Homo sapiens: one gene and its partners. The main gene of each other region encodes a partner of the protein of the gene in region 2 in a complex. Each region holds a gene or a part of one and is shown on either strand. Other genes may lie near its edges.

Region 1 (3,749 bases), on a different chromosome or scaffold from region 2:
GTGAAATCTAAATAATTAACATGTAAAGTTTTACTGGCCAGCGAAGTGGCTCACGCCTGTAATCCTAGCACTCTGGGAGACTGAGGCAGGAGGATCACTTGAGGCCAGGAGTTCAAGGCCAGCTTGAGCAACTTAGTGAGACACTGTCACCAAAAAAAGAAAAGAAAGAAAATTAGCCAGGAGTGGTGGCATGTGCCTCTAGTCCTACCTACTTGGGAGGCTAAGACAGGAAGATTACTTGAGCCCAGGAGTTCAAGGCCACAGTGAACTATGACTGCATTGCTGCATGCCAGCCTGGGTGACAGTGTGAGACCCTGTCCCCAAGAAAAGAAAAAAAAAGAGGAGAGGAGGGGAGGAGAGGGGGGGAGGGGGGAGGAGAGGGGATGGGGGAGGAGAGAGGGGAGGGGAGGGGGGAAGGGAGGGAAGTGGGGAGGGGAGGGGGGAAGGGATGGGGAGGGAAGAGGGGTGGGGAGGGGAAGGGGGAAGGAGAGGGGGGAAGGAGAGGGGAGGGGGAAGGGGAGGAGGGAAGGAGTGGGGGAGGGGAGGGGAGGGGAGAGGATTTACTAATGTCCTACCCTGTGCCTAGTATGGAGCTAGGCTCAGTTAAGAATCTAAAAGAGGCCAGGCATGGTGACTCATGTCTGTAATCCCAGCACTTGGGAGGCTAAGGTAGGAAGGTCACTTGAGGCCAGGAGTTTGAGACCAGCCTGGGCAACAAAGTGAAACCCTGTCTCTACAAAAAATAAAAATAAAAAAAATTTAGCCAAGCGTGGTATGTGTGACTATAGTCTCAGCTACTCAGGAGGCTGACGTGGGAGGATCATTTGAGTGTGGGACATCAAGGCTGCAGTGAGCTGTGATCATGCTATTGGACTCCAGCCTGGGTGACAGAGTGAGACCCTATCTCAAGTTAAAAAAAAAAAAAGAATCTAAAAGAGAAGACATTCAAGAGGCCAGGACGAAACCTAAGGACTCAGTATCACCTAACTAGATGTTAGTGAGGAAAGACATGGGGAGAAAGGCTCTGAGAGAGGTGTGATTTTCAGAGGAGTGATGAATGAAAGGATAAATAAATACTTATTGAATGAAAGTTGGAGAAGACTTTTCAAAAAAGAAGTGAACCAGAAAGAGTGTAATGTTGAAAATCAGGGCTGATTCTCAGCCAGTGTGGTTAGTATGACCATACCATTGGCTAACTATTGAAATATACCTGTATTTGTTGGTAAAGAGCTGCTGCTAACTACTGTCCTCCACCACCACCAGTCTCCCCATGCACCAGCCCCTCCCTCCCCGAAGACCACTTAGCTCTCCCCATGATCTAGCAACTAAATAAAATGACTCCTGACACAGTAGAGTGTCTCCAGGACCCTGCTCCAACTCTACTGCCAGCATTAGCAGTTCTCTATATCAGCTAATACTTATTAAGCAGCTTCTATATGTCAGGTACTTTATGGTGTGATTACAATTACCAAACACAACATTCATTTTGACTGATGAGAAAACAATTTTAAAGACATTGTGTAACCCACCCATAGTGTAATGGAAAGAGCACCAGTCAGAATCTAGGCCTATTGGCTCTTAAACAAATGTTCTCTCTGTTATACAAAATAGAGGTAAAAGCAGCATTAATTTGGTATTTATTTATTTATTTATTTATTTATTTATGTTTTTTTTTTTTGAGATGGAGTCTCGCTCTGTCGCCCAGGCTGGACTGCGGACTGCAGTGGCGCAATCTCGGCTCACTGCAAGCTCCGCTTCCCGGGTTCACGCCATTCTCCTGCCTCAGCCTCCCGAGTAGCTGGGACTACAGGCGCCCGCCACCGCGCCCGGCTAATTTTTTGTATTTTTAGTAGAGACGGGGTTTCACCTTGTTAGCCAGGATGGTCTCGATCTCCTGACCTCATGATCCACCCGCCTCGGCCTCCCAAAGTGCTGGGATTACAGGCGTGAGCCACCGCGCCCGGCCTAATTTGGTATTTATTGATGAATACCTGTTGTTTCACCATTTGCTACTCCGTGTGGGTAAGATGTTTAACTGAGAACAGGATGAAGGCTGAGGAGAAGCAGTGAGATTTCTCAAACTGGTCTCTGAGATTGGTGTAGTTTCATGTTTCAACAGGGCACTATGTGTGGAAGGTGGACTGCAGCAGGCCAAACTACGGAAAGGATGCCTTGGAGGTTACCAAAGAGAAAAATAGGCACAGCTTAAAGTGATAACAGATACAGGGAATGGTTTTTGTGTTTGTTTTTGCTTTTTTCAAGGTTAGGGGATAATTAAACATAGTTAAAGGAAATGAGAGAAGAAAAGCTTAACAATTAAAGAGGAATTAGATCAATAGTTTTCCTTGGCCAGGTATGATGGTGACACCTGTCATCCTAGCACTTTGGGAGGCTGAGATGGGAGGACTGCCTGAGGCCAGTAGTTCAAGACCAATGAGACCATGTCTCTACCAAAAAACTTTTTAATTAGCTGGGTGCAGTGGCATGTGCCTATAGTCCCAGCTACTCAGGAGGCTGAGGTGGGAGGATAGCTTGAGCCCAGGAGTTTGAGGCTACAGTGAGCTATGATCGTGCTACTGCGCTCCAGCCTGGGCAACAGAGAAAGACCGTGTCTCTTAAAAAAAAAAAAAAGTTTTCCTTCACATGAAGAAAAGATGTGTAAATTTGGAGAGAAAGAGAGAAAATCTGAGATATAAACAGTAATAATAATGCTAACACTTATTGAGTATTCTGTGTCAGGCTCTATTCTAAGAGCTATACAATAAGATCTTGATACTTTTCATCCCACATAAACTCAATGAGGTAGGTATCATTATTCTCATTGTAAAGATGAGAAAACTGAGGAAGAGAGTGTAAGAAAGGTGGGAAGTTAAAGGAGACAATATGATTACAAGGTACAATAACATTAGCTACCCTTTAGTGAGTACTTATGAAGTGCCAGATGTGTATGCCCAGCACTTGGCATATATTAATTCATTGAATCCTAACAACCATGATATGACATTTATGCATTCAGTTGTATCATTTTTACTTCTCAGATGCATCAGCTTCCTAGGAATTATTTTGGAGGAAAAAAATTGTAGTCCCAGGGCCTGGACCCCAAAAGCAAAATTATACTGTTCTATTATTTCTTAATGAAAATGATTTGCTTACTATATTTTGCAGCTACCAGGAAGAGTGAAGCCACAAGCACTCTAAAAATCCAAAATTCTTACCGTTAGGAGAATAATGCTTGGTGGTTTCATGGGATACTCTGGTGGCAGTACTATCCGCCCGTGATAAACTCCTCCATCAAAATCGGAGTCTGGGGGCCCTCTAACCGTGAAGTGCCATTCAAAAAGGTTATCCTGAACAAAAACAATAATCCACAAGGAATTAATAATATTGAAAAGTTTGATCATTTTATCTGAATATTAGAAATATTACCAAGCAAGAAAAATTAAATGCTTTATATTATTGCTAGTATAGTTTCTAATGCATGAGATGTCTCGAGACTATAAGTGATAAATTAAATTTATAAGTAAAAGCTATTTAATCTAGCTTTCATGTTCCATTGAGCTAAAATATTTTATAATAAACACATTAAAAATTTCTGAGTGTTGTTATATATTCATAAGTAACTTACAGGTTTAAATTGGAAATTAATCCTTGAAAGAATAGCAAATTATGATAATTATATAATCAAAAAATTACTATGTTTGGGTTATTTTAACAAATCTTTAAAAATTATCCCTTATAGATGCCTAAGA
Region 2 (3,749 bases):
GTGCAAAAGGGAAGGAACAGAAACAGACAGATGAGAAAAGGAAGATGACAGCATTGCAAGTGTTTCTTTCAATCCTTGCCAGGCCAGGCTTTGTTTAGCTACCCTGGTCTCTTCCTGCATACCCCAGCCCCCGTTTATAGTACCTGGGGAATGGGGAGCAAAGAACAGGATCAGAGCATGATCTGAAAAGAACACTGAGCCTTCTCCCTGCTGGAACCCCCACCCCACAAAAAAGGTTGATGGATTGATGGTCCAGTTGTTTATTTAGAAACCTGATTGTTCAAGAACATGGTGGGTGCTTCACACCTTTTTCACTGGGATTGTGCTGGAGGTGATAGGCAGCATTCTACCATTTCCTCAGCAACAGAGGTGAAGGCTCCTCAACTCAGAAGCACAAATTGTAGGGGACAGGGTGGGCAGGGAAAGGGAGAAGGAAATCCCAAGGCAATTCAATAGAAGAGGGTAAAACGACTCCAAACATCACTAAGGGCAGGTGGGGGCCTGCTTGCTCAGTGCCTGCTAAGTGTCCTGCCCTCCTTGCTCTCTCTACCCACCTCCACTCAAAAGATCCTACTGAATCTCCAGGTAGGCAGCAGGGAATATCCTATCATTAGGGGACAATAACAGGAAAAGCCACAGAGGAGAGGAAGAGGATTGAGTGAGAGTTCAGGAGAGCAAATATCACAGGCCCGGTGAGGTCTCAAGGTGGCTGCCAGCAGGGGCAGCAGCATTCACCCAGGGCCCCCACACCCACAGAGTTGCCCGAGAGGTCCACAGCTCAGCTCCACTCTGCTGTTTGGCCCTCAGGGGTTCCAGGGTGGGGAGGTGGGGAGGAGGCAAGCCAGTCCAGGAAGAGTCTGGATTCCGTGAAGGGTCAAGTGTAGTGTTGGTCTCAGAAGTCAAATTCGTCCAGGTCCCCTGTGCCCTCCCCACCTGGAGAGCCCCACACCCGGCGGTAATTGCTCTCCAGCTCTTTCTGCCGCTGGCGTTCCTTCTGGGCCTCTTCAGCTCCCGGCACCTGGTGGGAGAGGGTAGAGGTGGGCTGGAGCTACTGGCCGTTGAGCCCAGGGAAGTCCTGGGCCAGGCAGCTGGGGGAAGGCAGGGAATGAGGACACCCATGTCCTGAGGGGCTCTTCCTGCATGGCAGCACTCTGAGCCACTGGAACCCCAGCCTTGTCTTACAGATCAGGAAATGGAAGCTCAGCAATGGCGTGGCTGGGGCAAGCCCGCACCTCCACTCCAGGAGGGCTGGGGGCCAGGACTCGGGGGTAGAAGCCTCTTACCAAGATATTGAAGAAGATCTCCTTGAGGTTTCTCGTGTCCTCATCAGTCAGCCAACGTGCACCCTCTTCAGTCCCTTCAGCCCATGGGCGGACAATTTTGATCTCAATTTTCCCTGGAAAGGAGCAGTATGCAGTGAGAGGAGAGGATGGTTGGGAGCCTCAGGGCAGGCCCCCTGCCCCACTGGTCCCAGCCCCTCCACTTCCGGCAGCTTGCCCTTCCGACAGCACTGGGTCCAGCCGCCCTCCAGGGCCCACCTGCAGCTGTGAGTCCCTCCCTCTCCAGCAGCTCCTTCACCAGCCCCTCGATTTGTTTCAGCTGTGGGTTTTCCCGTTTCATCTCGAGGACAGTCAGATCCTGATTAGGGCCTCCGAGACGGAGCTTGGTGACCCGGACCCGGACTCTGTGCTCAGGATCCTCCTCTTAGAGGGGGAGACACACAGGGAAACACAAAGCAGAGGCGTGACTCCAGGGTTAGGGGTGTGGGGGTCATCTCCCCCTAAAACATCAGTTGGCTTTGGCAGCTCTTCCATCTCAACATGTATATGAGCCAGGGCTCAAAAAAATGTGTGCCCCGCCCCTCCCAGTTCAGCCTGTAGAGCTCCCTCCACCAATTGCAGCCTTCCATCTTCCCGCCCTACCCAATAATTCTGCCCGTCACCTATAGGAAAACAAATGTTTTCTAAAGCCAAAATCAGGCCACCTGCACCAACAAAGTTCTGTTTGAAGAAGCAGGTTGGAAAAGTGTGGTCTCCTCCTCCATATGTTGGGACTTTAAAGACATTTCAATGTTTATAGAGAGAGTGGGAATGGAAGGTTTGAAACTGGAACATTCCATTTAGAATATCTGATGTCCACACCCATAGGACACTATGAAATGGACACAAGGGGATACAAGAAGAAGAAATAATTTAAAGTCTATCCAAGCTATTGGCTCATGTGCAGCTGGGCTCTCCTATTCATGCCCTGACAGCTGGGGCCTCTCTTGGTGCAAAGTCCTAAAGTGGTTTTCAGCATATAGACTCACAAGCATTCAATTACTAGCTACTGATCATCCATTGTGTGCCAGGCAGAGTGCTAGGCACTGGGTGTACAGGAGCAAACCAGAAAACCAGCAGATATGCTCTAAAAGCTGCTTCCCAGAGGGATGAATAGGAGGTAAACACGCAAAGGGATGATGGTGTTGGGAAGCAGGCGCAAGTGAGGACAGTGTTCCAGAAAGTGGGGAGAGAATGAGCACCCTCAGAAGGGAAGGAACAGGGTCCCCTCTGGGAACAGAACCAGCTGAGGGATGAAAACAACAGACTGGGCTACTCTTTCTTGTCTGACTGCTCTCACCTGTAGGTTGGGGTGATGGGGGAGGCTTTTTGGGGACAACCCTCTTTTTCTTGTGCTTCTTCACCAGCTCTGGACTCTGTTTTTCCTCCAGTCTTTTGATGAGTTTGTTGAGAGTGGATGTGAGAGCCAGCATTGCCCGATCCCGCTCTGACTCCTTCTTCAGCCCATCTGGGTCCAGCTCTTTCTCTGTCTGGAATACCCAAGAGAAGAGAGTGAGTCAAGGGTCTGGGGTGTGGAGGCAGCCAGCGGGCTGGGCTCTGTAGGAGAGTCTGATATTTTGAAATGGAGTTTTGCTTATCACCCAGGCTGGAGTACAGTGGTGCCGTCTCGGCTCACTGCAACCTCCGCCTCCCGGGTTCGAGCGATTCTCTTGCCTCAGCCTTCCAAAGAGCTGGGATTACAGGTACCCACTGCCATGCCTGGCCAATTTGTTTGCATTTTTAGTAGAGAGGGTTTCGCCATGTTGGCCAGGCTGGTCTTGAACTCCTGACCTCAGGTGATCCGCTCACCTCGGCCTCCCAAAGTGCTGGGATTACAGGCGTGAGCCACCGCGCCTGGCCAGAGAGTCTGATATTTAAGTCTTGTCCCTCTCTCTGGTCCCCCTTCCCCAACAGCCCCGATTAATTAGGGAAACAGCTACCACTTCCAAGTGCCCCGTCCTTGCCCTGTGCTGTGCCCTCTGTTTCTTTTAGCCCGTCAGCCTGTCCTGCTCCACGGGACCAGGCGGCTGTGGAAGCAACAGGAGGAAGAGCTGGGCTTGCCTCCTGGATGATGTTTTCCAGTTCCCGCTCCATGCCAGCCTTCACCTCCGAACGGAGCCGGTCTCGGTCTGACGGAAGCAGGATCCCTTCCAGTTCCTTCTCAAATTCTCCCAGTAACTGCCGTTCATCCTCATCTTCATCCTCATCCTCATCCTCATCCTCCTCTTCTTCCATCTCTCTCTGCCGTTCTGGATCACCCCTTTCCTTCTCTGGTTCCCTCTGAGGGACTTCTGCAGCATCATCCACAGGCTGCTCTTGGCCTATATTTGGCTTCCCCTGGGTGGGTAGGGAGTGGGGAGAAAGACAGTTGGGGTTTCAACAGAGACACATGGTCGGGGGCAGACAAACAGTAGCAGGTGTGTGGTACTG
Region 3 (3,749 bases), on a different chromosome or scaffold from region 2:
TCTCAATCCCATTCTTCCCCCCACCCCCACCCACAAGGCTAGTCATAGAAACTGGAATCCGTCTTTCCCAAAGCAGGGCATAGAAACCAAAACCCCACCCTTTCCCAAAGCCAGCCACAAACCTAAAAATATTACTCTAACCTCCCTGCACCCCTTTCTGTGCAAATATTGGACATAGAGAAATTATCTGGCAGAGCGCAGTGGCTCACGCCTGTAATCCCAGCACTTTGGGAGGCCGAGGCGGGTGGATCACCTGAGGTCAGGAGTTCAAGACCAGCCTGGCCAACATGGTGAAACCCCGTCTCAACTAAAAATACAAAAAAAATTAGCTGGGCGTGATGGCGGGCGCTTGTAATCCCAGCTACTTCGGGAGGCTAAGACAGGAGAATCACTTGAACCTGGGAGGGGGAGGTTGCAGTGAGCCGAGATCGCACCATCGCACTCCAGCCTGGGCGACAAGAGCAAAACTCTGTCAAAAAAAAAAAAAGAAGGAAAAGAAAAATTATCTGACCTACCTTGTTTAACTGTTGTAGGCCACAGCCCCCATTCCAGAGGGTCCTGTTCCATACCCAGAAGGAATGAATGCTGCAGACAGGCCAAGGAGAATCCAGATAGGCCTTGCTGGGTTTCTTGCCTGTTTGCATCAGAGTGTTTTTTGTCCAGTCATTTTTTTTGAGACGGAGTCTCGCTCTGTCGCCCAGGCTGGAGTGCGGTGACGCAATCTCGGCTCACTGCAAGCTCCGCCTCCCGGGTTCACGCCATTCTCCTGCCTCAGCCTCCTGAGTAGCTGGGACTACAGGCGCCCGCCACCACGCCTGGCTAATTTTTAGTATTTTTAGTAGAGACGGGGTTTCACTGTGTTAGCCAGGATGGTCTCGATCTCCTGACCTTGTGATCCGCCCGCCTCAGCCTCCCAAAGTGCTGAGATTACAGGCGTGAGCCACCGCGCCCGGCCTTGTCCAGTCATTTTTTTATACGGCTGTCCATGCTTTGTTGAACCTAAGCATACAAATACACGATTTCCCTTGTTATCTTTGGGTCTTCATTCTGAAGGCTCCCGTGTCACATAAAACGATGGTCAAATCAATGTCTATGTCTTTTCTCCTATTAACTGCCTCCTGTCAGTGACTTTCAGCGAAACTTCAGAAGGTGAAGCGGAAGTTTTCCTTTGGCCCGGACAGCATCATCATTAATATCATTAATAAATATTCCCACAGTATTTGGCCCTTGTATGTCCTTTGTATGGTGCTGGGGATACAATAACATATCGCTGCAGAGATTTTCAAATGTAAAAGAAGAGAGATTATACTGATTTAAAAGCTAGATTCTGTCCTCACCCTGGAGCTAGTCTGCATTTACGAAAACTTACTTTCCACTGCGGTAGACAGACGCTTTCTACTCCAGCGCAACTGTGCCTTTCCTCAAATCTAGTCTCAAATTTAGGTTCCTTTTCATTTTCTGTTATGGAAAGGCCCTCAGCGTATCCCAGGCTTTGGAGCCTTTTGTTAGTAGTCTGGCCCATGCATAATTTCCCCTTCCTCTGAATTATACATAGCACCTCACTAGTTATATTTTAATACACTTTCCTATGTCTCAGTGGTAGTTTCCTATATTAATATATATCCCAGTTTAGTTTGGCTTTTAATTTCTTTTCTTCTAAGGGGATAGATGCGTTCTGTACCACCTTCTCGAGTACTAATGGTTAACTGGAATGAACACAAGCAACAAACCCTCCGGCCTGGATCCCAAAACAACAGTCGCGGTTCTGCAACAGAAAAGGCTGCGCTGGCCCTGGGACCTGTCTCGGAAATACTCCTCATCCATCTAGTTTCTCCCAGGACAACTAGGCCCAACCCCACGGGAATATACAGAGAGGCCTCGGGTCACAGACTTAAAGCTGTAAAAGGGAGGAGGCGACGGTCTGGTCCCAGTCACCGACCAGCCACCGACTACTAGGGCCCGAACCCGGGACTGCAGACGCACCTCCCCGCCCTCCCTTCCCAGCTCCGCCTGGCGGCGGGCGTTGCTCCTGAGGGGCGGGGCTTCCGCTTCCGGCGGGGGATTGTTGACGCCTGCGGTTGCTGCGGTGGTGACGGGGCTGTTGGGGAGGGGCCATTGGGGGAGGGAAACGGAGCAGTGACAGGTATCCCAGAGGGTGCTGCTGAGGCGACGATGGCCGAGGGGCCCGAGGAAGCCCGAGGCCACCCTCCCGGGCAGGACGATGGCGGAGGGGACCACGAGCCCGTCCCTTCCCTGAGAGGCCCTCCTACCACCGCCGTCCCATGCCCCCGCGACGACCCCCAGGCCGAACCCCAGGCCCCGGGCCGGCCCACAGCCCCGGGCCTCGCGGCTGCCGCCGCAGCCGACAAATTGGAGCCGCCGCGCGAGCTCAGGAAGCGCGGGGAGGCGGCCTCCGGCTCCGGTGCAGAGCTGCAGGAGCAGGCGGGCTGCGAGGCGCCCGAAGCCGCGGCGCCACGAGAGAGACCAGCTCGGCTGAGCGCCCGCGAGTACTCCCGGCAAGTGCACGAGTGGCTGTGGCAGTCCTACTGCGGCTACCTCACCTGGCACAGCGGCCTGGCCGCCTTCCCAGCCTACTGCAGCCCCCAGCCCTCCCCGCAGAGCTTCCCTTCGGGCGGCGCTGCAGTCCCCCAGGCCGCGGCGCCGCCGCCCCCGCAGCTGGGCTATTACAACCCCTTCTACTTCCTGAGCCCCGGGGCCGCGGGGCCTGACCCGCGGACAGCTGCCGGCATCAGCACCCCTGCTCCAGTCGCGGGCCTGGGACCCCGGGCTCCTCACGTGCAGGCGTCGGTCCGGGCCACTCCAGTGACGAGGGTAGGATCCGCAGCCCCTTCGCGAAGCCCGAGCGAGACCGGGCGACAGGCAGGTGAGAAGCGCGAGGTGGAGGCTGGGCGGAGTAGAAGGGTTTTCGGGGGCCTGTGGGGTAGAGCTGGCACGCTTTTTAGACCTGTAACTGCTGCTTCTACTCTGATTGACTATCCTGCCCGTTCAGTTCACTAGCTATCGTTTGTCCAGGCCCTAAATTCCCAAAATGTACAAGGAGGCAATACAGTTTCTTCTTCCTTTAGACCTGGCACTCCAAATTGACTCCCTTACTCATGGGACTAGTTGTTTATTCGTGAAAAGAAATTGCTCTTCAAACCATCCTCTTCCTTTGGTTTTCACGCTCTGCAGTGAGGGCCAAAGCTAAATTCGCAAATGGCAAACCCACTTTTGGAGGGGCTCGACTGGTAATGCTGAAAATTATTCAGACATTGGCTACTTAGGACAGTGGAACTGAACGGATATAAAAGGAGATCGACATGGATACAAGTGGAGTTAGGAAGTTTTGATTGGGTCAAAGCTTCACTTCATTTGATCAATATCTTGTATATTGTGTAATTGTTTTTGCTTCTGTGTGTGAACTAGAATATTTTGAATTAGTTACACTTCTTAGTTTACTATTTAAACTATTAGACTTTTAGTTTATTTTAGTTAGCCACAGATAGATGGGACAAGAACTAGTTGATGCCTCTGATCCCAGTCAGAATTTAGGATGACAGATTGATACTCACTGGGTTTATTTTAAAGAAAGCAAAACAAACTAAAAAACGGGTGGGGGGGGATTACAGGGATTTACTTTATACTAATTGCCAATATTTAACCTTGATTTGTACTAAAAAATGTTTAATTTTGTGTGACTTAGATGTGATCACCTGGATTCTCCTCATTAGAATTCCTAGTGAAATGTA

Evidence for each region.
Region 1: OS9 (region 2) and UBE2J1 share a complex: the UniProt entries of both Homo sapiens proteins name them as parts of the HRD1 complex.
Region 3: OS9 (region 2) and FAM8A1 share a complex: the UniProt entries of both Homo sapiens proteins name them as parts of the HRD1 complex.

Annotation. Positions count from the first base shown.
Region 1 is NC_000006.12:89,339,109-89,342,857, forward strand, and holds part of UBE2J1 (ubiquitin-conjugating enzyme E2 J1), read right to left. Parts: intron 3,348-3,749; coding exon 3,216-3,347; intron 1-3,215. UniProt on the Homo sapiens protein: Catalyzes the covalent attachment of ubiquitin to other proteins. Functions in the selective degradation of misfolded membrane proteins from the endoplasmic reticulum (ERAD) and is essential for cells to recover from ER stress.
Region 2 is NC_000012.12:57,718,053-57,721,801, reverse strand, and holds the end of OS9 (protein OS-9 isoform 1 precursor), read right to left. Parts: intron 3,657-3,749; coding exon 3,381-3,656; intron 2,810-3,380; coding exon 2,620-2,809; intron 1,704-2,619; coding exon 1,539-1,703; intron 1,397-1,538; coding exon 1,284-1,396; intron 1,019-1,283; coding exon 893-1,018; 3' UTR 245-892; downstream 1-244. UniProt on the Homo sapiens protein: Lectin component of the HRD1 complex, which functions in endoplasmic reticulum (ER) quality control and ER-associated degradation (ERAD).
Region 3 is NC_000006.12:17,598,238-17,601,986, forward strand, and holds the start of FAM8A1 (protein FAM8A1), read left to right. Parts: upstream 1-2,064; 5' UTR 2,065-2,172; coding exon 2,173-2,884; intron 2,885-3,749. UniProt on the Homo sapiens protein: Plays a role in the assembly of the HRD1 complex, a complex involved in the ubiquitin-proteasome-dependent process of ER-associated degradation (ERAD).